5 separate regions of the Homo sapiens genome follow, and regions 2, 3, 4 and 5 are each linked to region 1. The links come from fine-mapping of genetic effects on gene expression. A gene starts in region 1. Each other region holds a variant in brackets. All regions are shown on one strand. Distances are between the middles of the regions.

What was found. PIP is the estimated chance that this variant, and not a neighbour inherited with it, causes the effect. A credible set is the group of variants that fine-mapping cannot tell apart.
Region 2: its variant is the best candidate, but not a certain one, in a credible set for the expression of GRK3 in neutrophils (BLUEPRINT, PIP 0.52).
Region 3: its variant is the best candidate, but not a certain one, in a credible set for the expression of GRK3 in esophagus mucosa (GTEx, PIP 0.86).
Region 4: its variant is the best candidate, but not a certain one, in a credible set for the expression of GRK3 in fibroblasts (GTEx, PIP 0.59).
Region 5: its variant is the best candidate, but not a certain one, in a credible set for the expression of GRK3 in fibroblasts (GTEx, PIP 0.69).

The regions. Positions count from the first base shown.
Region 1 is chr22:25,561,541-25,566,645 of GRCh38, reverse strand. It overlaps GRK3 (G protein-coupled receptor kinase 3), which reads right to left and starts at 1,971. Exons shown (of 21, transcript NM_005160.4): 1 at 1,493-1,971. The coding sequence starts at 1,605. It overlaps GRK3-AS1 (GRK3 antisense RNA 1), which reads left to right and starts at 1,230. Exons shown (of 4, transcript NR_183564.1): 1 at 1,230-1,566; 2 at 2,287-2,556; 3 at 3,165-3,343. RefSeq lists an enhancer at 759-1,274 and silencers at 1,386-1,635, 1,946-2,045.
Region 2 is chr22:25,609,443-25,614,547 of GRCh38, reverse strand. All of the region lies in intron 2 of GRK3 (G protein-coupled receptor kinase 3), which reads right to left. Among named protein-coding and RNA genes, the nearest start is that of GRK3-AS1, 47 kb to the right of the region's middle. The variant G/AG (reference allele first, on the strand shown) is at 2,717.
Region 3 is chr22:25,524,921-25,530,025 of GRCh38, reverse strand. No RefSeq gene overlaps it. Among named protein-coding and RNA genes, the nearest start is that of GRK3, 37 kb to the left of the region's middle. The variant T/C (reference allele first, on the strand shown) is at 2,783.
Region 4 is chr22:25,430,308-25,435,412 of GRCh38, reverse strand. No RefSeq gene overlaps it. Among named protein-coding and RNA genes, the nearest start is that of MIR6817, 23 kb to the left of the region's middle. RefSeq lists an enhancer at 3,938-4,438. The variant G/ATTTTTG (reference allele first, on the strand shown) is at 1,953.
Region 5 is chr22:25,517,618-25,522,722 of GRCh38, reverse strand. No RefSeq gene overlaps it. Among named protein-coding and RNA genes, the nearest start is that of GRK3, 45 kb to the left of the region's middle. The variant A/G (reference allele first, on the strand shown) is at 2,571.

The DNA of each region.
Region 1 (5,105 bases):
ATGCTACACTCTGGAATAGGGGTGTTAAACTCACGACATTGCAGAAAGGTTTGCACTTTTCCCTCATTTTCACTACTTGGCATTGTCTATCAAAGAGTAGCACATCCTGCAAAACCAACAAGAGGCATGGGCTAAGGAGGAAAAGCAAGCTCAAAATACCTAGCAAGCATGTCTTCATTTGCACAATTTAGCTTTTCACAACAAATAACAAGGGGACTGGTATTTTCTGTATCATAGGGCTCATGGATGACTTGTAAAAAAAATCAGATGATGATCACTTAGCATTAGGTAACATTTAAGCAATCTTGGGCGCCTAACGCTTGAAGGACTGATGATTTCAAATGGACAATAACTTTGGTTTAGATTCCAATATTTTACAGAATTGCATGGTTTCAAATTCACCATAAACAAGATGCCTCTTTTGAGCATCAATTCCAAGAGCTATTTAGCATCAAGGAATCACATTAGCTGTACAACTCATGATGGTGTTAATTAGGAAAGGAGCTAGAGAAAAAAAAATCCATCACTGAAGCCTTGATACGTTATTTAAAACTCACTATTAACCAGACAAACTATTTTTTCTGGGGAAGTGCTAATGATATGAACTAGAAAAAATTTTACTAGTACCTTAATAATAAATCATTTGAGAGAAAATTGCAACTTGGTATGCACCTCACCGAGCCCCTCGCCAATTCAATCGGGCCCTCCTTTGATAATTTAACAACAAATTCCTGTCTGGAATCACCCATTCAAGTGTCTTTTTAAGTGACTCCTGTTTCAATTTTTTAATAAAGTGCCACCAGTAGATCTACAAGTTGAGGAAAGCAGCTCAGGTGACACACTTGGCACCAAAAAGAATACTGAGTGGGTCAAAATCCTGCCCGGGGACAAAATAGAAGAGAAGCCGAAGAAGGTGACTAGACTTAATAGACTTCAAGAAGAGCAAGTACTGAAAACAGCAGTTTAACTACCTCGGACAATAAGCAACAAGCCTGCAGTCCCCAGGTAAGCGGCCCAGAGGGAGGTGAGAGGATGGAGTTGGAAAGGGGGACCAATGAGCCCGGGAAGAAGGAGCGACCAGGATGGAGCGCAAAGCAGTGACAGGCAAGGAGCCAACGGGGACTACACCAATGCAACAGGAAGAACCACGGGGATGGGACAGGGCAGGACAGGACAGGGCTGGGGGGAGGGGGCGACAGGGATGGAGCTGGTCCAGCCAAGTCATAACCAGACCCTGGCTGGGGCGCTCGCTGCGCGCAGGGCGCCGCGCCGGGCACTTTGGAGCGCTCTCTCCCGGGGTGCCCCCCACCGGCCCTCCGATGCCCCATTTCAGAGACTGGAACGACGAGGCCGGCCCCGCATCGCCCGCTCCGCTGTGTCACCCGCCCCGGGGCAGCGGAGGCTCAGCGCCCGACCCTCCAGGAAGCAGGGGGTAGCTGGCGGCCGCAGGGGGCGGCGGCTTGGGGCCGGCGCCGGCCGGGGCAGCTGGTACCTGGGCTCCGGCAGGACGATCCTCTTGCTGGCGCGGGCGGCCGGGGTCGCCTTGCTCTTCTCCATGGCCATCAGGTAACTGACATCGGCCAGCACAGCCTCCAGGTCCGCCATGTTGGCGAGCTTTGGCGGCGGCGGCGGCGGTTACTCCGGACCTGGACGGGACGCGCGCCCGCCGCCGCCGCCCGCCGCGCCCCGACCTGGGGGGGCCGCCCCGGGGCAGCCCCCCCCTCCGCGCGCCCCCGCCCCGCGCGCGCGCCGCGCGCCCCACTAGCGCTCTGCGCGCGCCGCAGGCTGTAGCCGGCCGGGGTCGCAGCACGCCTCCCCGCTCCGCCCCCTCGCGCGCCGCCCGGCGCCCCGCGCACGCGCGCCGCCCCCTGCTCCTTCAGCGAGGGTCTGCGGGGAGCGCGCGTCCAACGGTCAGCGCCCCTCAGTGCACAGTCCCAGCGGCCTCGCTGGGCCGGCGCCTCCCGACCAAGTCTCTACGGTCGCCCTCCCCTCGGGGTGGCCACGAGGGACTCCTCCTCCTCTTCCTCCTCCCCTCCCTCCCCCTCGGTCTCCGCCTCCTCCTTCTCCTCCTCCTTCACTGCCCCGACCTCCCGCCCCAGGTTCCACGCGCTCTGATGCCCGCCCCGCTCACCCAGAGAAGCCCTGGGCCAGACGTCCACAACCCAAGGGGTTATGGGGAGGCCTCTGCTCCCTGGACACAGTAGTTCTCAAACTGGACAGTGTCAATCAGCATCCTCCGGGAGGTCTGGGGTGGCCCCGGAAATACATGTGTCCCACCTATCCCAGCAGGTAATGATGAAACTCCTGCTCTGGTCCGGGCTACCGGTGAACAGCGCCCAGCGGGCCGGGCCCCCAACCTCGCTCCTGAGCCTGAACATCCCCCCAACCCCACCGTGAGAATTCAGCGAAGAGTAAAAGCTGGAAAAAGTTGCGTGTCTTAGGCTAAGCAGAACAAAGTGGGGTGACGGCTCCCCGGCTAGGAACAGAGATGCCCTTAGGGAGCCCTCTGATGGAAGAGCTCTCCGCTTAAGAAGGTCACCACTCCCTTACACTCAGGTGAGAGGTTTTAGTTTGGGTGTTGAAATGGTGTTGAGAAATAGAAGGAGAGAGAGTATTCCTGTCGTTAGGGTTTTACGGTCAATACAAGAGACAATTAGGGAGCATCTGCTGCGAGCACACTCGCACCACGAGGGTGATTTAGGGAAGTGGAAAAGCGAGATACAGCCCAAACACCGAAGCTGGGGGGAATTTCCAGCTTCCTGATCTTCGGTCTCGGTGTCTTTCATCATCACTCCACCCCGATGCCTGGGGTTTTCAGTTGCTTATTTTTCTACAGTGTGCACACAAGTCCGCATTCAGGATCCATGTGACACTCAGGCTGGAGTGGTGGTAAGGGACACGCAGGCAGTCTTAGGAAGACCTAAGCTGGAAATTAATGTTTTAAAATCCCTTTCATTCACCTGAATTGGTCACGTATTTCCATGAGCCTAGACGTTGCTAGAATTTGAGTGAACGTTCTGTCCATAACTTACAGGGTTAACGGGACCCACCAGATACAGTTAAGGTCAAATTTCAGATATTTCATGTAATGTCATTGCAGAAGCAGCCTGATTCTGTCATCAAATAGCCTGTTTCCCTCTTTTGTTTTCTCTCCCACGCCACAGCCCCCCTCAATCTGATTCCCTGCTATGCCTGCCATCACCACTGGCCAGTTTTACCACATGCTTCTCAAGACCCAAGGCACAATAGGCATAAAGTTGTCCTGAAAAGGACAAGAGGAGTGTCAGAAGTAGGAATGGCAGTTGAAGGAGCTTCGTCTGCCAGCAGAAAGCTGAAATGACAGGCAAGCACAAAATATATTAAGGAGACAAAGCTATGCATGAGCGAAATATCAAACTTTCATCTTCTACCCACTTTTTTTTTTTTTTTTTGCTTAAAAACAGGAAGACAGAATGTCTTGTCAAGGGTCACCCCAGGAGGAGGAGTAAATTCCCCAAAAAGCGGAACATATTTTTATGATTTAATTAATACAATTTCTCTCAATGTGTCTGTTTATCATTTGAGCATCCACATGATCAGACCTGACATCTGCCTACATTTTCTTGGTCGTCTTTGACTTCAGTTAAGAACCTTTTGCTCTTTGTTTTCCCCCAGCAGCACAGTATATTAAGTTTGGAACAAGACACACCTGAAATCAAATCCCTGCTCTGTGCTGGGTGATCTTAGAGGCAGTCTTTTACCTCTTTCTACTTTATTGTTCTCATAGGAAAAGTGGAAATGAGGCCTTTTACCCCAGGGTTGTTGAGAAGACAGAGGAGAAAAAGCACATAAAAATGCACCTTGTCGGGCGTGGGGCTCACACCTGTAATCCCAGCACTTTGGGAGGCTGAGGCAGGTGTATCGCTTGAGGCCAGGAGTTCAAGACCAGCCTGGCCAACAGGAAAAATACATTAAAAATAATGTCTCTATTAAAAATACAAAAATTAGCCAGGTATGGTGGTGCACGCCTGTAATCCCAGCTACTCAGGAGGCTGAGGCAGAAGAATCGCTTGAACCCAGGAAGCGAAAGCTGCAGTGAGTCGAGATCGCAGCACTGGGCAGGCACAGTGGCTCACACCTGTAATCCCAGTACTTTGGGAGGCTGAGGTGGGTGGATCACAAGGTCAGGAGATGGAGACCATCCTGGCTAACACGATGAAACTGTATCTCTACTAAAAATACAAAAACAAAATAAGCTGGGCGTGGTGGCGGGCGCCTGTAGTCCCAGCTACCTGGGAGGCTGAGGCAGGAGAATGGCAGGAACCCGGGAGGCAGAGCTTGCCGTCAGCCAAGATTGCACTGCTGCACTCCAGCCTGGGCAAGAGAGCAAGACCCTGTCTCAAAAAAAAAAAAAAAAAAAAAAAAAGCATTTTGCCTGGCACCCAGTAGATCCTCAATAAAGGTCATGGCACTTCCTCTATTTATTTTGCTTCATTTTACCCTGGCATGCTAGAGAAGATACTGAAACTAGTTGTTCACAGTCATTACACTTGAAGCAGGAAGACCCCTTACCAAAAATAACATCTCCCTAGGGCATTTCTAGGAACCAAAATGGCAAAAACATTTGCATCTATAAACATGAGCAATTACTCTTTTGGCAGAAAGACCAAGGAGTCCAAAATTTGGTCCTCTAACTGAGGCCCCTACACCATTTGAGTCAGCTGACTCAATTACCCAGGGGTATTTTTTTCTGGTGTTCATAGTGTATGAATTTCTGTTCCCTGGCTGTCTCTTTGGTTGTCTCACTTTCTCCACCCCCTCTTCTTTCCCTTTTTCTTGACTCTCTTGATACTGAACAGCTTTTTGTGTTCACTGCAAACAAAAGGGGTTAATGACAGTGATGATGAAGTTGTCATAACTGACCTGCTGGATCCTGTTACTAAACACCATCCCCAGCCTGTAATCATCACAAAGAACAGAAAAAACAAATAGCAACCCATTTGTACTTAGCTAATAATGCTCCCTTGCAAATAATTATGTCTCCCACCCCCAGAGGATTTAAATGACTTGGGGCTCACGCTGCTTGTGATAATAGACAAAACTCCAGCGTTCCCACAAGATTAATA
Region 2 (5,105 bases), 48 kb before region 1:
AGCATCACTGTCTTAAACTAATAGTAAATCCAATTATGGACTAATAGTATTCCAATCACACACTCAGAAGAGCTCTGGGAAAATTAAGCAGTAAAAATTTAGCAGATAATAGATGGCCGAGCACAGTGGCTCACACCTATAATCCCGACACTTTGGGAGGCTGAGGTGGGTGGATCTCTTGAGCCCAGGAGTCCAAGATCAGCCTGGGCAACATGGCAAATCCTTATCTCTACAAAAAATACAAAAATTAGCCAGGCATGTTGGCGCATGCCTGTGCCTGTAGTCCTAGCTACTCGGGAGGCTGAGGCAGGAGGACTGCTTGAGCCCAGGAGGTTGAGGCTGCAGTGAGCTGAGAGTGTACCACTGCATTCCAGCCTGGGCCACAGAATGAGACCCGTCTCAAAAAATAAATAAATAACATTAAAAAAAAGATAATACATTTGCTAGCTGGCAAATCAGTGCTCCTATAGTTTCTAGTGATTAGTAGATATTAAAGGATTGTGCTTTTCCAGTAAAATGTAGCTTTTCTGAATTTTTTTTTGGGTGGGGCGATGATAATTATGGCTGGTCTTTGAACTTGAATGATAATTTTAAGAAGGAAAACCAGCCCTACTAAGCTGGGTTTAAAAAAAAAAAAAGAAGACAACCAAATTTTCCCATAGAACTGGTTTAGCCTTTTTCTCCTCTTTTTATCCTTTTTAACCCAAAATGCTCAGATGTCCCAAATGTTCAGAGCTGCAGAGGCTGCACTGCGGGGGCATGTGGCGGCTCCCAGCCCAGGCAGACTCCAGCACCAGGAGCTGATGCCCAGACTTGTTTAGTCCAACACAGGTGATGAAGTCAGCTGAAAAGAAGACGGACTTGCCAGTAGGTTTGTAAGAAACAGCTTTTCCTCTACCCTAGTGTCTTTCCTCTCTGGGCAGCATTTTTATTAGGAAACCCAAGTTGAAACTGTGCAGAGGCTGTGACCCTAAGTCCCCCAGGCTCCCGTTACTGCCTGAACCCGGCCACTGCACTGCCTCTTCAACAGAAAATCCAATTCGCTGTGCTTAGTCCACTGTTGGTCTCTGCTGTTTGAAAGTTTACGTGCCTCTTTAACTCTTTCCCTCAGGAAAAGTCTCCACAAAGGCATGGATAATGGATGCAGAATTGAATAGGGCCCCAGGTTTTTCTTCTCTGAGGCTGTGGTTGCTCTGGCTAGAGAACTCTTACAGATAAGGCAGGGTGGGAACTGACTGTGTCACTGTCAATCAGGGGATCTGTCAGGGGAGGCCCTTCACTGTGACAGAAACAAACACTTCCAAACAAAGGTAGGAACACAGAGGAAAACAAAGTTGAAGTTGGTTCCCAGGATAACAGTTCCCTCTCTACAACCTTATGCAAGACGGCTCTATTTGCTGTAATTTAACCTCAACTTTTGAATCCAAAGCTGCTGACTTATACATGTTTTCAGCTTTTAACCATCTATGTTATATTTTAGATATTAAACATGTCAAGCAATAATTTTACAAATGATGAAATCGAGTGGCAAGTTTATTCATTGAAACTGACAAAAAAGTGATCCTAAAATGTTTTAGTTTGTTTTTTAGTATTTTGGGGTTTTTTTTAATAATTACCAAATTTTTAAAATAAGCATCTGTGGTCTATCTACATCCATCTTTATTATTATAGAAACTGCTCAGATTTTTTTTTTTTTTAACTTTTAGAGGTAGTAGTTTCTGTTTTTATCAATGTATTCTTTTTATAATGAAACATACACTTTGCTTTCAAAGCCCACAGCAAGTACATTTCTTATGCCTTGGCCCTAAATGTCAAATATAATTTATGTATTATTTCTAGGTAAATGTTCTTTGATATCATGCTAAATATGTTTGAGACCAACTTAAAAAACATTTAAGAAATTAAAGTGAAAAGTAAAAACTGAAAGGAAATAAAAGACACCAGACTGGAAACAAAGAAGTAAAACTCTTTTTATTCAGATAGGATTCAATACATAAAAAATTCTAAGGAATACACACACACACACAAACACACACACACATGCAGACATACCTTACTAGAACTGATAAACTAATTCAGGAAGATCACTGGATACAAGATCACTACAAAAAAACTCATTCTATTTCCATGTACTTGCAATGAACAACCAAAATTAAAATAAATAAAACAATTCCATTCACAATAGCATCAAAAAGATTAAAATACTTGGGAACAAATTTAATGAGAAACACAAAATCGGATATCCACATGCAAAAAAGATAGATTTAGACCTTGCTTTACACCACAGACAAAAATATACTCAAATTCGACCACAGACCAAGATATAAGAGCTAAAACAATAAAACTACTAGAAGAAAAACAGAAGAAAACCTTTGCAAATTTGTTAGGCAAAAAGCTCTTAAATATGACACTAAAGGCCGGGCTTGGTGGCTCACACCTGTAATCCTAGCACTTTGGGAGGCCGAGGCGGGTGGATTGCCTGAGCTCAAGAGATCGTGACCAGCCTGGGCCATGTGGTGAAAACCCGTCTCTACTGAAATATAAAAAATTAGCTGGGTGTGGTGGTGTGCTCCTGTAATCCCAGCTACTCTGGAGGCTGAGACAGGAGAATCACTTGAACCTGGTAGGTGGAGGTTTCAGTGAGCCCAGATTGCACCACTGTACTCCAGCCTGAGTGACAGAGTGAGACTCCATCTCAAAAAAAAAAAAAAAAAAA[G/AG]ACACTAAACTATGAGTCATAAAAGAAAAAAATGTATAAATTGGACTTCAAAAATAAAACCTGTGCTTCAAAAGTCACCATTAGGAAAATGAAAGAGACTGGATTCCAGCCACCAACCAGAAGAAAACATTTGTAAATCATACATAAACAACAAATAACATAAAGACAATCCAAATTTCAGGATGGGTAAAAGATTTAAGTAGACATTTTACTAAAGAAGATATACAAATAACTAATTAGCACAAACATGTTTAATATCATTAACTACTGGAGAATCACAAATCAAGACCACAACAAGATACCACTTCCTATCCATTCAAATGGATACAAAAAAGACGGGTAACAACAAGTATTGGTGAGGATATAGTAAACCTGGAATGCTCATAAATTGATGGTGGGAATGTAAAACAGTACAGCCACTTTGAAAAGCAATTTGGTAATTTCTTAAAAAGTTAAACACAAATTTGCCATACAACCCAGCAATTCCACTCCTAGGTAAAGACTCAAGAGAAATGAAAACATATGTCCATAAAATACTTGTACACAAATGTTTATGGTAGCATTGCTCTATAAACAAGCAAAAAGTGGCAATAACTGCTCTATAAACAGGCAAAAAGTGGAAATAATCCAAATGCCCATCAACTGCTGAATGAAGTGAGTGTGCTCTGTAGGCCGGACACCGTGGCTCATGCCTGTAATCCCGGCACTTTGGGAGACTGAGGTGAGTAGATGGCTTGAGGTCAGGAGTTCGAGACCAGCCTGGGCAACATAGTGAGACCTTGTCTCTACTAAAAATACAAAAATTAGCTGGGTGTGGTGGCATGCACCTGTAATCCCAGCTACTCAGGAGGCTGAGGCACGAGAATCATTTGAACCCAGGAGGCGGAGGTTGCAGTGAACAGAGATCGAGCTACTGCACTCCAGCTTGGGTAGCACAGCAAGGCTCTATCTCAAAACAAAAAACAAAAAAAAAGTGTGCTCTGTCCATAATATGGAATGCTATTTAGCAACAAAAAGGAATGAAGTACAGATACACACAACGACATGGATTAACTTCAGAAACCTTATGCTAAGTTAAAGAAGCCAGATGCAAGAGACTACAGACTTTATACCGTATAATTCCATTTTTATGAAATGTCTAGAAAAGGCAGATAGAAACAGACAGATGAGTGTTTGTCTGGGGCTGAGGATGGGAGCAGAGTAACGACAAATGGGCAGGAGGGATCTTTTGGAGGCATGGAAATGTTTTTAAATTGTATTGTGGTGACGGGGGCACAACTGTAGAAATTTACCAAAATCATCACATAATACATTTACAATGGGTGAATGGTATATAGTAGTTTTGCATTTTGAGAGTTGTTTTTTGAGACAGAGTCTCGTTCTTTTGCCCAAGCTGGACAGCCGTGATGCGATCACGACTCACTAAGGCCTCGAAATCCAAGGCTTAAGAAACCCTCCCACCTCAGCCTCCTGAGTAGCTGGGACTACAGGTATGCAGCACCACATCCAGCTAATTTTATTCTTAAATTTCTATACAGATAGGGTCTCACTGTGTTGCCCAGGCTGGTCTCAAACGTCTGGCCTCAAGTGATCCTCCTGCCTCAGACTTCCAAAGTGTTGGGATTACAGGTATGAGCCACCACACCTGGACAAGTCATTTTTTAAAAAGTAAAAATTGCAGGGCTGGGTGAGGTGGCTCACGCCTGTAATCCCAGCACTTTGGGAGGCCGAGGTGGGTGGATCACAAGGTCAAGAGTTTGAGACTAGCCTGGCCAACATGGTGAAACCCTGTGTCTCCTTAAAAAAAAATACAAAAATTAGCCAGGCATGGTGGCGTGTGCCTGTAATCCCAGCTACTCGGGAGGCTGAGGCAGGAGATGTGATTGAACTGGGAAGGCAGAGATGGCAGTGAGCCAAAATCGCACCACTGCACCCCAGCCTGGGTGACAGAGCAAGACTCTGTCTCAAAAAAAAAAAAAAAAAAAAGTAAAAATTGCAAAGTTTTTGTGTCTATATATCAGACACCAAATTATTTCACACAAATTGAAAAAGATTACTATTCAAACTGGGGATTGAGTTCTGAAGCCAGTATTATAAAATGAAATGCCTTTAATGGCAGTATGTGATATAATATTATATTACCACGTTCTTTATACATGAGAATGACATTTACATACTTCATGTATTAAGTATCGATTTGGGGGCTGGGCACATTGGCTCAAGCCTGTAATCACAGCACTTTGGGAGGCCCAGGCGGGCAGATCACAAGGTCAGGAGCTTGAGACCAGCCTGGCCAACGTGGCAAAACCCCATCTCTACTAAAAATACAAAAATTAGCTGGGCATGGTGGCACATGACTGTAATCCCAGCTACTTGGGAGGCTGAGGCA
Region 3 (5,105 bases), 37 kb after region 1:
TTTCACTTAATGAGGTAATGATTTGTCCTCTTTCTTGTGGGAGTGGCTGCAAAGATGAGAGGATCGCACAAGAGCCCAAGAGCATTCCTTGTGTATTTCTAGAACACAGTAGATAACCATATGGAAATATTACTCAGCAGCTGAACTACTCTCTGGGAAGATCCTTGGGTTGGGATTGGGAACAGGCTAGAGGGACAGAGGCCCTCCTTTTTTTTTTTTTTAAACTGATGCCGTTGTTTTATTTCTTTGCATGTTGCAGCACGCAGAACATTAATAGAGGATGAGAGTGCAGTGACTAAGGAGACGCTAGAAGGTTCAGGGAGAAAAGCAAAAGGAAAAGGAAAGGCAAAAGAGGTGTCATCACAGAAGTCCTATGGGGATGGGTGATGAGGAATCTTATTAAGTTTTGCTTTTTCATATGTCATGTAAATTCTCTCCCCAGTGTTTCCATAACACTTTGAGTAAAACACCCATTTCTCATTAACATAGTGTGTAGTTAGACTTAATTTGTTTGTTTTTAAAGATTGATCCCAAGTGCTGAGTCCATTTTAAGGTGTTCTCACAATGAGAGCAGATCTCCCCATTAGAACCTACTTGTATTTAAATGACAAGCATAATGCTTGATGTACCAACTAGAATGCTTTTAGTTGAAAGAAACAGAACCCCAGCTTAAAATAATGTGAACAGTGAAAGGAATTTATTGATTCATGTAAATAAAAATGGGTCAACACTAGTTTCAGGAATGGCTTGATCAGGGTGCTGACTCCATTGCTCTGCAGTTCTGTTGATTTTGCCTTCCTGAACATGATGGTTTACTTTTCAGACTCACTTTTATCATGGTGACAAAATGTCTGGAACAGTTCCGTACACCACATCTTCCTGAAGAAAAGTGTCTTTATCTCAATTACCAAACAAAATCCTAGGTTTCACTCTAACTGAGCAAACCAGTCACATGCCCATCTCTGAATCAATCACCATGGCCGACGGAAGTGCCGTGCTCTGATTGGCTTAGGATGAGATTTGTGCCTATCTCTGAAACAATCCTATGCAAGAGTAGGATTTTCTGATTGGGTTTAGTCAATTGGAGGGGGGTTTACCTCTGGAACTGTGAATGGAATCACTGTCCCCTAAATTATTATACATGACTGCCATGCATTGGGAGTAGAGTCAGTACTCTCAAAATCACATGACCCCATGCCTTTGCAGAGCAGATGAATGGATGCCGCTAAAAAAGCCATCAATGTCTTTCTGAATGGGAATTTTCCTTTGGGATGTAAAAAGTGCCTTTTCATTCTGGCCTTTGATTCTCCAACACAAAATTAAACCACTCTGCTACTTCTCCAGTGTGCATGGATGTGTCCACACTTTTCTTTGCTTGATATATTTTATCAGTTGCTCCAAACATTAGCAAAAAGCTGTTCATGGACTTGAACATTATTTAGAAACAAGCAACCCTGGTGTTGAACATGCCTTTGACAATATACAGTTGTCTACCTTGAATCTTTCGCTCCTTTCATTAGACTGAATAGCACAATGGTTAGGAATTGGAACTCTGGAATTGGACTGCCTGATTTCAGAATCTGGTTCTGCCACACACTGGCTGTGGACCTTGAATAATTTACTTAACCTTTCTGGGGCTTGGCTTTTTTATCTGCAAAATGGGGATAATGTGGGCACAAACCTCATAGAGCTGCTATGAGAACCAAATGCTATGATGAATATACAATGTTGGCTCAGTGCCCGGTAAATAGTGAATGCTCCAGAAATATGACGATGATGATGATGATGATGATGACAAGTAATTGGCCTTAGCTCTTGCTTTGTCCTTACCAGCTAAATAGAGTCTGACACCATAAATGTAACATTTTCTATAGCTCCAATAACAAAATCTAAGCATTACAGATTCTACACATTTGCTTCTTGTTAAGAATTTATAGATTCACAATCACCTAAGTCGAAAGGAGACTAAAATCTGAAGTTGGCATTCAAACAACACTGCTATTGGAAAAATAAATTTAAAAAAGGAAAACTAGGGCTGAATAGTTGAATAGTTAATTGTAGTACTTGAGCTATTAACATATTAATAATGAATTACTAATAATAATGATTAACAGTTTTGATATTTAGATATTAAAGAGTTCCTTCCAGAAGAGTTGTATCAGTCCTGTTTCACAAACAGGCAGCATCATCTGTAGCAGGGTACAGAAAGCAGTCACCAAGCACGAAGACACTAGAGTCATTTATATGATCAAGAAAGGGCTTTGGCTGAGCGCAGTGACTCATGCCTGTAATCCTAGCACTTTGGGAGGCTGAGGTGGGCGGATCATGAGGTCAGGAGTTCAAGACCAGCCTGACCAACATGGTGAAACCCGACTCTACTAAAAATACAAAACTTAGCCGGGTGTGGTGGCGGGTGCCTGTAATCCCAGCTACTCAGGAGGCTGAGGCAGGAGAATTGCTTGAACCTGGGAGGCAGAGGTTGCAGTGAGCCGAGGTTGCACCACTGCACTCCAGCCTGGGTGACAGAGCAAGACTCCATCAAAAAAAAAAAAACAAATAAGAAAAAAGAAAAGAAAGGATTTTAGTTTTTAGGGAAGCAATGCCCTTCTCTCCCTATCCTTTCCAACAGAAATTCAATTTTAAAAATCCTGACCCACTGGGATTTTATTCCCCCTTTCTCTACTCACCAAAGTAGTAGCTCATTAAATCCACATTCCAAAGCCTGCTGTAGTCAGAAGGCCCTTTCTGCATCCAGCTCAGCCTTTGTTATATCACATGGCTT[T/C]ATGTGTCATAGTCATTATAAAAACAACTGATTTAAGAAGACACACGAGTTTTGGAAAATCTCCAGAGGATGCAGAGGTACAGAGCAGTGGTTCTCAAGCTTTGGGAGCTGCTAGAATCTTCTGGGCAGGCAAGTGGGAGAAGGAAGGACTGGTTCAAAATGCAGATTCCTGGCCCCAGCCCCAGAGACCCTAACTTGAAATGTCCAGGGTGGGGCCTGAGAGTCTGTACTTTTGTGCCAGCTTCTTGGACAACACTGAAGCAGATGTGGTGTGGATCATTCAAGAACCCTATCTGGAAGCTCAGAGGATCAGACCCTTCCACCTGAAGACAAACCCAACAGCCACTCAGTGTATTTATTTTATGGGGGTATATCACAGGGCATGTATTATGGACCGAATGTTTCTGTCTCCCTAAAATTCATGTTAAAGCTGTAACCCCCAATGTGATGTTTTTGGAAATGGGAACATTTGGGAAGTAATTAGGTTTAGATGAAGTCATGGGGGCCAGGTTCCCATGATGGGATCCGTGTTCTTCTAAGAAGATGAAGAGACCAGGGCAATGTGCACTCTCTCTCTCTCTCTCTTTCTCTCTCTCTCTCTCTCTCTTCCTATCCCTCTCTCTCTCTCAGTCTCTCTCTCTCTGCCATAGGACACAGTAAGAAGGTGGACACCTGCAAGACAGGAAGAGAGCCCTCACTGGGGAACTGAGTCTGCTGGCACCTTGACCTTGGACTTCCCAGCCTCCAGATCTGTGAGAAATAAGTTTCTGTTATTTGAGCCTCCCAGTCTATGGTATTTTGTGATGGCAGCCCGAGCTGACTAAGACAGTGTGTGAGCATGTGAGTGTGGGGGTGTGATACAAGATGAACCAAAGCCAGCTAAAACCTGTCACAGGCTGAGACAACCCATCAGCCAAAACTCCAGGTTCAGGCTACATAACATTGTCAGAGATCATCAAGTGCTGGTTTTAAGTAAAATATTTTCTCTAAAACTCATGAATTTAAAAACTCATGAATATGTTACTGTGTTGGAATTGTTTACATGCTTTGCATTTTATAAAGGAAAGCTTCACTCAATCAATATAGTCAGGCTCTGACTCTGGTAATAAAGGTTTTAATTTCTCATGTGTTTGAAGCCTCCCCTATGAACTTTATTAAATTAATCAGGAAAAAAGGGAGGAGGAGAAATGAAAATGAAACAAGCTTGTAGCACATTCAGCATTAATCATTAAGTCAGCCCGCTCTCTGACCTGCTTCCTCATATTTGTGTGGTGCCTATTGTCCTACAATCACGTAGACTCTGTTACAAGATTATAGCTCCCCTTAACTGCTCTATAGATAAAAAACTGAACACTACAAAACAGTAAGTTTTCTTTTTGAGATAGTCCTTCAGGTCCTGCATACTAATAAGACTATAACACTAGCCAATCTGAAGGACCCAATGAGAATCTGACTGCCGAAGAATGCAGTTTTCACATCCTGATGATTTCAGCCCCCTTTCCCTGATCAATCAACAGCCCCAATTCTGAAGTCCCTCACCCTCCATGATCCCCTTAAAAAACCCAGCCCATAACTCCTTGGGGAGACGGATTTGAGGGTCTCCTCCCATCTCCTCACTCAGTGCCCTATGATCATGGATCTTTTTCTCTGTTGCAAACCTTGCTGTCTCAGTGTAATTGGTCTGTTACTGCACAGTGGACATACAAACCTGTTGGTTCTATAACATGATTGTCCTCCTAGGGATGATCAGCAGAACTGTATTTGCCTGAAAGTGTTCTTAGCTGTAGATGCTGGAGGCATCTGAGTACCCCCACTTGTAAAAGAGCAATACATAAGCCTTAGCTTCATGTTCTGCTTTCTGGGAAATGCAGGCTAATGCACATGGACATATAAACTCCATAGGGGCAGAGACTTTTGTCTGTTTTGTTCACTGTTGCATCTTCAGCACTTACTGGCACATAGTAGGAGCTTAACCAATTTGCTAAATGAAAAGTAAATATGCCAGGCTCTGTGCTAATGTCATTTCATTTTCACAACAACCCTGTGACATACGTACTCTGATTATCTGTATTTTATAGGTGAGGAAAGAGTCTCAGAGGGGTCAAGCAACTTGCTCAAGGTCACTCAGCAAGAAAGTGATAGAGCTGGGATAGGAACACAGGAGATATGAGCCACGTTCAAAACGGAAGTTGTACATTCATGCCACTCATCAGCTAATTAAACTGGTAACAGTTAATCAAACTGTTACCTTCTCATTTTAGAGCTCTCCCACCTTCCTTTTTCCTTTTTAATTGTAAAAAAAAACCACATAATGTAAAATGTA
Region 4 (5,105 bases), 130 kb after region 1:
TTCTCCTGCCTCAGCCTCCCAAGTAGCTGGGACTACAGGCGCCCACCACCACGCCTGGCTAATTGTTTGTATTTTCAGTCGTTGAAGTTCAAGTGAACAAGATGTATGACAAGTGACTACTCATCTGTCAGAGTGGCAGGGCCACTGAGGATGTGACAGTCATTCATCCACTCTGAAACAACTCTTCAGGATCCCTAACATAGAAACGAACATCTGGCCTTTACATGCTTTGATAAACCGATCTATTCCTGTTAAAACAGAGGCTTCATTCATCTCCAAAGCTTGTAGAGAAACCTCAGACTGGGGCCAGAGACCCTGCGGGTGCTGTGGTTTCAGGGCCTGGAGGTGACACCTCCCAATCACACAGACATTGCAGGCTCAGAGGGAGGAGCCCCTTTGAAAGAGGTGAGCAGAGTCTGGGGCATTTGTGCAAATGTTGATGAGGTCCCCAGACAACTCACAGCCTCCCAGGAAACCCTAACTGGGGAAGAAAAGATGAGGATAAGCAGAGCCCACCATGGGTGAGAAGAGAGGAAAGCCAGGGTCTCCACCACCCAGGTCCTCAGTGTCCCTCCTCCGTGTGCCCGGCCCTGTCCTGTGGGTGGAGGGTGAGGAGAGGGAGAGAAGGAAGGGTTGGCAGTTTTATAAGAGCTGGACCTCCTCCTATGAGTAGATGAAATAGTTTAATGAGATTGGTTTTGGATTTTCCAGCTTCCCTAGAGGCCGGAATCAGACTCCCAATATAAGCTCTTGGTCGCTGTGGTGAAAGTTCGTGTGTATTCATCCCCTGAGAAGGTTCCCTAACCCTTACTGTGTCTTCTGTGTGAGGAGTGCAGCTCTAAGCACTCAGGGTACTGTTTCCCAGTGAATCTTAATGAAATGTTTGGAGAATTTTTATTTCCTCCATTTAGCCTAACCAGAACAGAAACGTCAGCTCTAGAGGTAGAACAGGTCACTCAGAGTCACCCGAGCAATCACTGCTGCATGAGCTGCTGACTTGAGGTCTAAGTGATGGGAAAGTTCACCTTTCTACCTAGTTGCCTCTGAAAATGTATCCTAAAATGAAATAAACACGTTGTTTATAGCTAATCTTTCTAGGTGTCTTCATAAATCAATGAACAGACACACATTTTCCATGTGCAGATGGTGTGGAAAGTTCTGGTGTGGAAAGTTCTAGTGTGTTCCGGTTAAATCTGGGGGTCAGACCAACTCAGGAGGCTGCCCCTGAGGAGATAGGAAAGGTCCCCTGTCCCTTAATGAAGTGGCCTTGGCCAGACTTCCAACCATGGTGAGGGAGGAAGGGGGACATCCATAGCTCCTTCTCCTCCACTCTCAGGAAACCCTAACCCAGGAAATAATTCTAAAGAGATCTAGGGAGGAGGAACTGAGAGGACAAGTTGCCTCAGACAGGAAGACCCTAGGAGTGTCCATGGGGGATGTTCATAACTGAGAAGCATCATTGCTGGCCAGGGGACTGGAAAACACATCATCTTACATCCCTGCATTCCCGCTCCAAATGTTTGAAATCCCAGGAACCCACAGCCTGTCCTCTCACTCGAGCTCTCAGGGGCACTCCTGCTCTGTAGGAAATAGAAACTGTCCCTTCATTATCCCATTACGTCATTTTTGCTGCACAGAGTCTTGCACAGTGGGTCCTAGTCATTTTCCCTGTTTACCTTCATCTCCTTTCTGTCTCTTCTGAGAGTCTGATTCCATCTAGCACCTCTTCTCTTTCCTGTGAGGCCAGTTCTCCCCAGGTCCAACCTCAGGGTTGCAGTTCAAAGGTTGTCCCCTTCCCCTTCCCCTTCCGACAGAGTCTTGCATCCAGGCTGGTGTGTGGTGACACGATCACAGCTCACTGTAGCCTTGATCTACTGGACTCAAGAACCCTCCCACCTCAGCTTCGCAAGTAGTTGTGACCACAGGTACATGGCACCCACCTGTTTATTTTT[G/ATTTTTG]TTTGTGCAAAGGGGTCTCATTTTGTCGCCCAGGCTGGTTTAAACTCCTGGCCTCATGCCATCTTCCCACCGTGACCTCCCCACTCTACATTTTCTTCTGAGCACTGGTCTCACAGCCTCCTACAAGTTTGGTGTGCTTTGTTTCCATTTTCATTTATCTCAAAGAATTTTCGAACATCACTTGTAATTTCTGCTTTGATTCATTGATTGTTTAGGAGTGTGTTTAATCTTTACATATTCCTGAATTCAGATTTCCTTTCTTATTTCTACCTTTTTCTCTCGCAGAAAAGATATTTTGATTTTAGTGCTTTTAAATTAATGAGATTTGTTTCATGGTCTAATACAAGGTATATTCCAGAGAACACTCCATGTGTGCTGGAGAAGAATCTGTATTCTGTGAGTCTGTTGTAGATGTTGTCAGGTCTAGCTGATTTATAGTTTTTCAAGTTCTCTACTTCTTTATTGATCTTCTGTCTCATTGTTCTAGCCAGTATTGACAGTATAGTATTGCAACTATTATTGCGAAGCTGTCTGTTTCTCTCTTCAATTCCATCAGTCATTACTTCCTATACTTGGGGGCTCTGTGGTTAGACGCACATGTACTAATTGTTACATCTTCTTGATGAAGTAACTTATTTATCAATATATAATGTCCTTCTTTGTCTCTTGTAATAACTTTCATTGACAGACCCATCTCTCTTTTCCTTCATTCCTTGCCTCCTTCCCTCTTTCCTTCCTCCCTCCTTCCATCCCTCCCTCATTTAAACTGTTGGCAGGACACAGTGGCTTACATCTATAATTCCAGAATTTGGGAGGCCAAGGCAGGTGAAGTGTGTGAACCCAGAAGTTTGAGACCAGCCTGGGCAACATGGTGAAACCCAGTCTCTACAACACAACACAACAAAACAAAACCTAAAATTAGCCGGTCACCTATAGGTGCAGCTATGCGGCCACTCAGGAAGCTAAGGCCAGGGCATCTATTGAGCCCTGGAGGTCAAGGCTGCAGTGAGCCATGATCACACTACTGCACTCCAGCCTGGGTGACAGAAGGAGACCCTGTCTCAAAAAAAAAAAAAAGAAAAAAGAAAGAGAAGTACATAAATACACAGATAAACTGTTGGTTGGGAGCCGTGTATGCGCCAGGCACTAAGCTGGGGATGAGATGGGATGAAGAGTCTGGAGACTTGGGAAAAGGCTGCATCTCTGGGAGGCCACAGCTTTTCCTTAGTCAAAGAGGGTCCTGGAAGGGGTAGGTAAGATCCCTTGAAGCCAGGTCCTCCAGAGCTCCAGGACCCAAGGTGGAGCTCAGGGTGTGGGAAGGCAGCCAGGGGGCAGCATCAGGCCTGGTGGGGGGCTGGGGCTGGGAGCAGGTGGGATGTAGGGAGAGGGCTGTTCCACCCTCACCTGTGAGCTGCATGAACACCCAGTGCAGCCCTGAAATACGCTCCCCCTCTCCCTGGCCACATCTGTCTTGTTTTTCTCCTGTCCCACATCCCACGCGGCAGCCTTGGCTTCTCCTTGCCTTAGTTTTTTCCCTTGTCACCCTGAGTTCTGGTTTAGGTCAGTGTTAAGATTAACCTTAGCCTGGGGATTCCCAAGGTCAGCCAGCTGCAGGCAGGGCCACCAGAGCTGGGAAGGTGAATCCCCCACCCCCATCCCTTGGCCTGGCCCCCACCCTACTCTCACCTCAGACCACGCTGCCCCTCCAGGCCTCCCTGGCCAACTCCTTCACCCAGGAAGCTACTGGTTTCCTGAATGGCTGGTCCTCAGGGTCCCTGACCCAGCTTTTCCTTGACCAGAGCAAAGGCTGGGCCCAGGGAGGGAAAGGCACTTGCCCAGGATCACACAGTGTGTCACCCACAGGCCCAGGCAAGAACCCAGGAGATAACAGCAATGGCTGTGGGTAGGTGAGGGTCCCCGTGGGCCTGGCACTCCCTAGGCATTCTCATTTAATCCCCAAAACCAACCTGTGGGGAGAGACTGTTATCACCCCCCTGTACAGAGGAGGAAACTGAAGCCCATTGAAGGGAGTCAAACTGCCTGAGGTCAAGGGCTGCTGAGGGCTGAGCTTGGGCGGGACCCCTTTTCTGTCTGACCCCGTGGCTGGGGCTCCCACAGCAGAGGCTCCACTTGGAAGAACACGCTCTGGGCTCCTGCAGGCCTTTGCCAGCTGCCCTCCCTCCTCCTAGCCGTTCAGGGGAGGGGTGGCCATCGGACTCTGTAGCCCTGACTCGGCCTTACTCTGCTCTGAGGCCTCTTTTCTGCATCCCCGAAATGGGGTCAGAGCTGGGGAATGGTAAAGGGAGGTCACCCCACCTGAGCATATCTCGTGCCTGGCAGAGGGCAGTGCTCCATACAGGCGCCCTCCATACAAGTGTGTTCCATACAGGTGTGCTCCCATGTGAGCTTGGGCAGGCCCCTTCCTCTCCTGATCTCGATTTCCCCATTTGTCAGATGGGAGGCCCTGGGCTGAAAGTCAGGACACCCCTGAGCTGGCTCTGCCTCACTCTTTGGGATTTAACTGCTCCGGGCCTCAGTTATCCTACCTATGAAATGGGACCGTGATTCTGGCTGTGGGCCCCACAGAATCCCTGAGTGGCTCAGCCGGATAACACGTGTCCCATATTTTATAAATGGTACAGGGACAGTAAGGCCACTCAATAGCGTTTCAACACAGGACGCAACTGTCTTTAGCAGATCTGGCCAGATCTGAGGCATTCAGGGCCTTTATTCTCGGCCTTGCTCCCTCTGGGCCCTGTTCCTGCCCCTCTGCAGAGCTCTGGGGCTTAGGACATGTTAGCCTGCTGGCCCAGCCCAGCGTGCGTGTTCACAGCCCTGGTCTACCATCCACCCCAGAGAACTCTTGTGCACCCTGCAGGGCCCTGCCCTGGACCTGCCTACCCGCATCCTCTGCTCATTCAGTCTTCTTTACCAGGTGGCCACTGTCTGTGTCCCATTCAGGGCCCAGACCCCCTCCCTCCCTTGTCCCCTGCCCGCCATGAAGGCCTGGCCCAGTGCAGGGCCCAGCCATGCGGCAGAATGGAAGGAATTTTTGGGTGGTGAGCAGGGTGGCAGAGCACGTGGTATGGCAGACAGGTTCTAGGGTCTCTGAGATGATCCCTCAGCGTGCTTTTATGGGGGCCCATGTGCACC
Region 5 (5,105 bases), 44 kb after region 1:
GTAAATGACATAGGAAGAAATAGAGGCCAAGAGAGGTGAAGTCATAGTTAACAGTCACTGGCAAGGCTGGGACAGGGACGCCAGCCAGAGTTTTGGGCCATTGACTTGTGGACCTCATAGTCATGTGAATAAGATAGAAGATAAAACCATTAATGTTTTCCTGAGCCGAAGCAAGATATTAGCTCATTCCCTGGACGCAGCCCACAGTCTGGCATAGAGTAGGTGCTCAATAAATACTTGCAGATCAATAAAGGAATAGACATGAAAGCATAAAGACATTGAAACCAAAACATTTTTAGCTGCTTTTTAAAGGTAATTTAAAATAACCTTTTTGTTTTAGAATAGTCTTAGATTTACTGAAAAATTGCAAAGGTAGTGCAGAGTGCTCCAACAAACCACACACCCAGTTTCCCCTATTGTTAACATCTTACATTCAGATGATACACTATTTACAATTAATGAACTAATATTCATACATCATTATTGCTATAGTTTGGATGTCCCCTCCAAAACTAATGTTGAAATTTCATTGCCATTGTGATGGTATTAAGAGGTGGGACCACTTAAGAGGTGATTTGATCATGAGGACTTTGTCTTCATAAATGGATTAATGCTGTCATGGGGGAGGTAGGTTAGCTATTGCAGGAGTGGGCTCCTGACAAAAGGATGAGTTCAGCCTGATTTCCTTTTTCTCACATGCTCGCTTACTCTTCCACCTTTTGCCATGGGATGACACAGCACAAAGGTCCTTGCCAGATACTGGTGCCATGCTCTTGGACTTTCCAGCCTGCAGAATCATGAGCAAATACATTTCTTTTCTTTATAAATTACCCAGTCTGTGGTATTGTGTTATAGCAACACAAAATGGACTAAAACAGTTGTTAACTACAGTCTGTACTTTTCAGATTTCTTTAGTTTTTACCTAATGTCCTTTTTCTGGTCCATGGTTTCATTCAGGATACCATATTACACTCATTACTTAGGCAATTGTTAAACTTCCCCTGAGTCCCATATTGCTCCTCTTGTTCGCTATTGCCCTACTTCAATCCAGCTTCCACATTGGAGCCAGCAAGATATTTAAAATACAAGAACCTGATCATTTACCCCACCCTTTGCTTCAAGAAGTCCCCCATGACTTTGAAGAAAGAGTTGCAATTTGTTAAATGAGTACTCAAGGCATTTTATAGCCTTTAAGGACCTGAATCTTCCACTCTGTCTTTACTGTGTTGTAAGATGCTGTCAATTGCAAGTTGTGACAAACCCACTTCGAATGGCCTTAAACAATAAAGAGTATTGGCTTATGTGATAGTTAATTGTATGTGTCAGTTTTACTGGGCTAAGGGATACACAGATAGCTGGTAAAACATTATTTCTGGTGTGTCTGTGAGGGTGTTGCTGGAAGAGATCAGCATTTGAATCAGTCGACTGAGTAAAGAAGATCCACCTTCAATTATGCAGGTGGACACCATCCAATCCATTGAGGGCCTGAATAGACGAAAAAGTCAGAGAAAGGGAGAATTTTCTCTCTGCTTGAGCTGGGACATCTGTCTTCTTCTGCCCTCGAACATCAGTGATTCTGGCTCTCAAGCCTTTGTACTCAAAGTGGGACTTACACCATTGGCACCCCTGGTTTTGGGGCCTTCAACTTCAGATTGTCGAACTACACCACCCGCTTTCCTGGGCCTCCAGCTTGCAGACAGCAGAGCATGGGACATCTCAGTCTCCATAGTCACATGAGCCAATCGCTCATAATAAATCTCTTTCTATATAACTCTCTATAAAGAAATATATGTATTTCTGCTTGTTTCTGTTTCTTTGGAGAACCCTGAGTAATACAGCTTATATAAATGAAAAGTCAAACAGGAATGTGGGCTTCAGGCATAGTTTAATCCAGAGGTTTACTCTATCAGCAGGGCTCAGCTCCCTTTCCCTTCTCCAGTCTGCCTTTCTATGTCCATTGATTTTATCCTTCCTAGAACAGATTCTTACCTGGCAGCAACATAGCCCCAGAGTTCCATGACTCATATCCACACTCCAACACCTAGAAGAAAAAAGAACAAGCTTTTTAGACAGTAAAGAGCTCTGAGATTCACTCTGACTGGACTAGCTGAGATCTCATGCCTATGATTGGCCATACCAGTTGGTTCAGGGATTATCACAAGTATTACCAGCATAGCCTTTATTGCGTTGAACTACAATTCTGGTTTTCTCATTGGTGTCTCCAATAGATGGTGTTATGTTATTCTCCTTTATATCCCCACTGCCTAGGACATAGTCATACTCAAGAAATGTGAATTGGATTTTCAAAGCACAGGGTTAGTTGTCCTCTTATCAAACTCTTGTGCTAGCTTAATCCGGGCCTCAGCAGTCTGTGGGCATAAAAGGTGCCCCATTAATAGTTGTAAATGCATAAATAAATACCAACTTGACTGCCTCTTGGCTCCATAGGACCTCAGCTCTTATAACTTCTCCACAGCCGGGTATTCAAGCCCATCTCAGGGGCTATCTCAGACATGATTAGTATGTTCCCTGTGGAACAGGTGGGTACCACTGTCCTTACCAAGTACCAC[A/G]TCTTTGCTGGGTGCTGCAGTGTATATCTTTGGGTCTCCATGGAGATCATGGGAGAGTTGCGGGTGTAGGGGGGGTCATACACCTTCTCCCTCCTTCTTGTAGTTGATGGGTCGTGCAGCATTGGGCTCAGGCTCCAGTGTGTTGCAGAGGTCTGCGTGGAGCCCATTGTCTGTTCTTCTTTGCTGCCCTCACTCCCCCGGGGCCCCAGACATGAGCCTGTGGACTGGGCCTAAGTAAGAGACCAGAGATGGTCATCTCACTCCATTCAGAATCTCTTCTGCTCTCTGGCCCTGAGATGTGGGATTGGAGCCAAGCCTGTCCTGCTAGATTTCTATTCCTCTGTCCTTTGCACTCAGAGATTCCTGGCTGCACACAGAGACTGCCTCACTGACAATCAGACCTTCCTGGAAGTATCTGGACCTCTGCAGTGGCCACAGCTTAGGCCTCACCCATGAGGAGTACGCTAGCAAGGATGCCTCAGGGTGTCTAGTACCTTCCAGGTGCAGCAGAGAATGCTGGCCACTGTGCCTTGATTTTTCTGGGCCTTCTGTTGAAATGGGGCAATATTTCCAACCTCTCAGGGTTCTCTAGGGGGTTAAATGGGATAAAGGACTTGAAAATCCACAGATGATACCTCTTATTTTTCAGGCTGATTTAGGCCCAGCACACTAGACACCCACAGTGCTTATAAATACCTCCCTGGGTATTATCAAACACTTCTAATTACCAAACACACCTGCTTTTCCCAGAAGACGTAGGCTCCTAAAAACAATGGGTATATATGTATGATTTGTATTTGTATATTTAGTCCCCAAACTAAGTTTAGTACAGTACAGACAAAATCAATCAACCAAGCAAGCAAGCAAAGCTGAGATTTATTGTGCACATACTATGCACCAGATTTTACACCAAGCACTTTTTTTTTTGAGATGGAGTTTTGCTCTTGTTCCCTAGGCTGGAGTGCAGTGGCACAATCTCAGCTCACTGCAACCTCCACCTCCCAGGTTCAAGCAATTCTCCTGCCTCAGCCTCCTGAGTAGCTGGGATTACAGGGGCCTGCCACCATGCCCAGCTAATTTTTTGTATTTTTAGTAAAGACGGGGTTTCACCATGTTGGCCAGGCTGGTCTGGAACTCCTGACCTCAGGTGATCCACCCACCTGGGCCTCCCAAAGTCCTGGGATTACAGGCATGAGCCACCATGCCAGGCCTACATCAAGTACTTTCTATTCACCATGTCATTGAACCTTTACAGCAGTCTCACAAAGTAAGGACTAACTTTCTTTCTATATAAGCAAACAGAGGCCTGGTGGGTGGTGTAGGGCAGCAATTTATCCAAGGTCACTCAGCAAGTAGGTAGCAGAGCTGGGATTTGAATCTGGGTCTCTCTGAGTATTAAGCATACATTTATATCCCATGTAAACATGCTTCCTAAAGACTATCTTTCTTCAAATCCATAGGTTGTGGATTCAAAAATAGACCATCTATCATTGAATCCACAACCTGTGAACACAGTTCTTCTCAGTACATAGAACATGCCAAATGAATGCTTGATTGATTAAATGAAGCAATATAAAAGAACGATAGCTAGCTAGCAAGATAAAGATAGAGACAGATGGATACATAGAGACAGATAGATAGATGGATAGAAAGATGATAGATATAGACAGGACGGATATGTAGGTAGGTAGGTAGGTAAATAGATGATAGATAGATAGATAGATAGATAGATAGATAGATAGATAGATAGATACACAGATAGATAGATTAATAGATCGATCTACTGATATGCTAGGCGAGAAAGCAAAGGATTCTTTACAGATGGTCTTTCTTCTAAGACCTAGCATCTGATCTTCAAAGCGTCTCCCATAACATCATCTGAATGCCCCTGGAACAGAAAGGTCATGTAGGATCAACATCAAGGTGAGGTCTCCATGGTTTGTTTGCCAACAACACCGGATGTGGCTTTTCCATCTTTCCCAGGACAGTTTGTATTACAGAACAAGGGAACCTTATCCAACCTCCGGGTCTAGAGCCTGAAGGACATTAGAATGTAGAAGCTTCATTCCATGATGACAAGTAATCCAGGTAGGGAGGCGTATGCACAAGGCTAGAAAATGAGACAAACTCGGCCAGGCGCGGTGGCTCACGCTTGTAATCCCAGCACTTTGGGAGGCCGAGGTGGGTGGATCACGAGTTCAGGAGATCGAGACCATGCTGGATAACATGGTGAAACCCCGTCTCTATTAAAAATACAAAAAATTAGCCAGGCGTGGCGGCGGGCACCTGTAGTCCCAGCCTCCCAGCCACTCGGGAGGCTGAGGCGGGAGAATGGCGTGAACCCGGGAGGCAGAGCTTGCCATGAGCCGAGATCGCGCCACTGCACTCCAGCCTGGGCGACAGAGCGAGACTTCATCTCAAAAAAAAAAAAAAAGAAAGAAAAAAGAAAAAAAAGAAAATGAGACAATCTGATTGTCAACATTGCACAGGCATGTAGGAGTTCTTCCATGTGACCCATTTCTATGTACTGTTGAC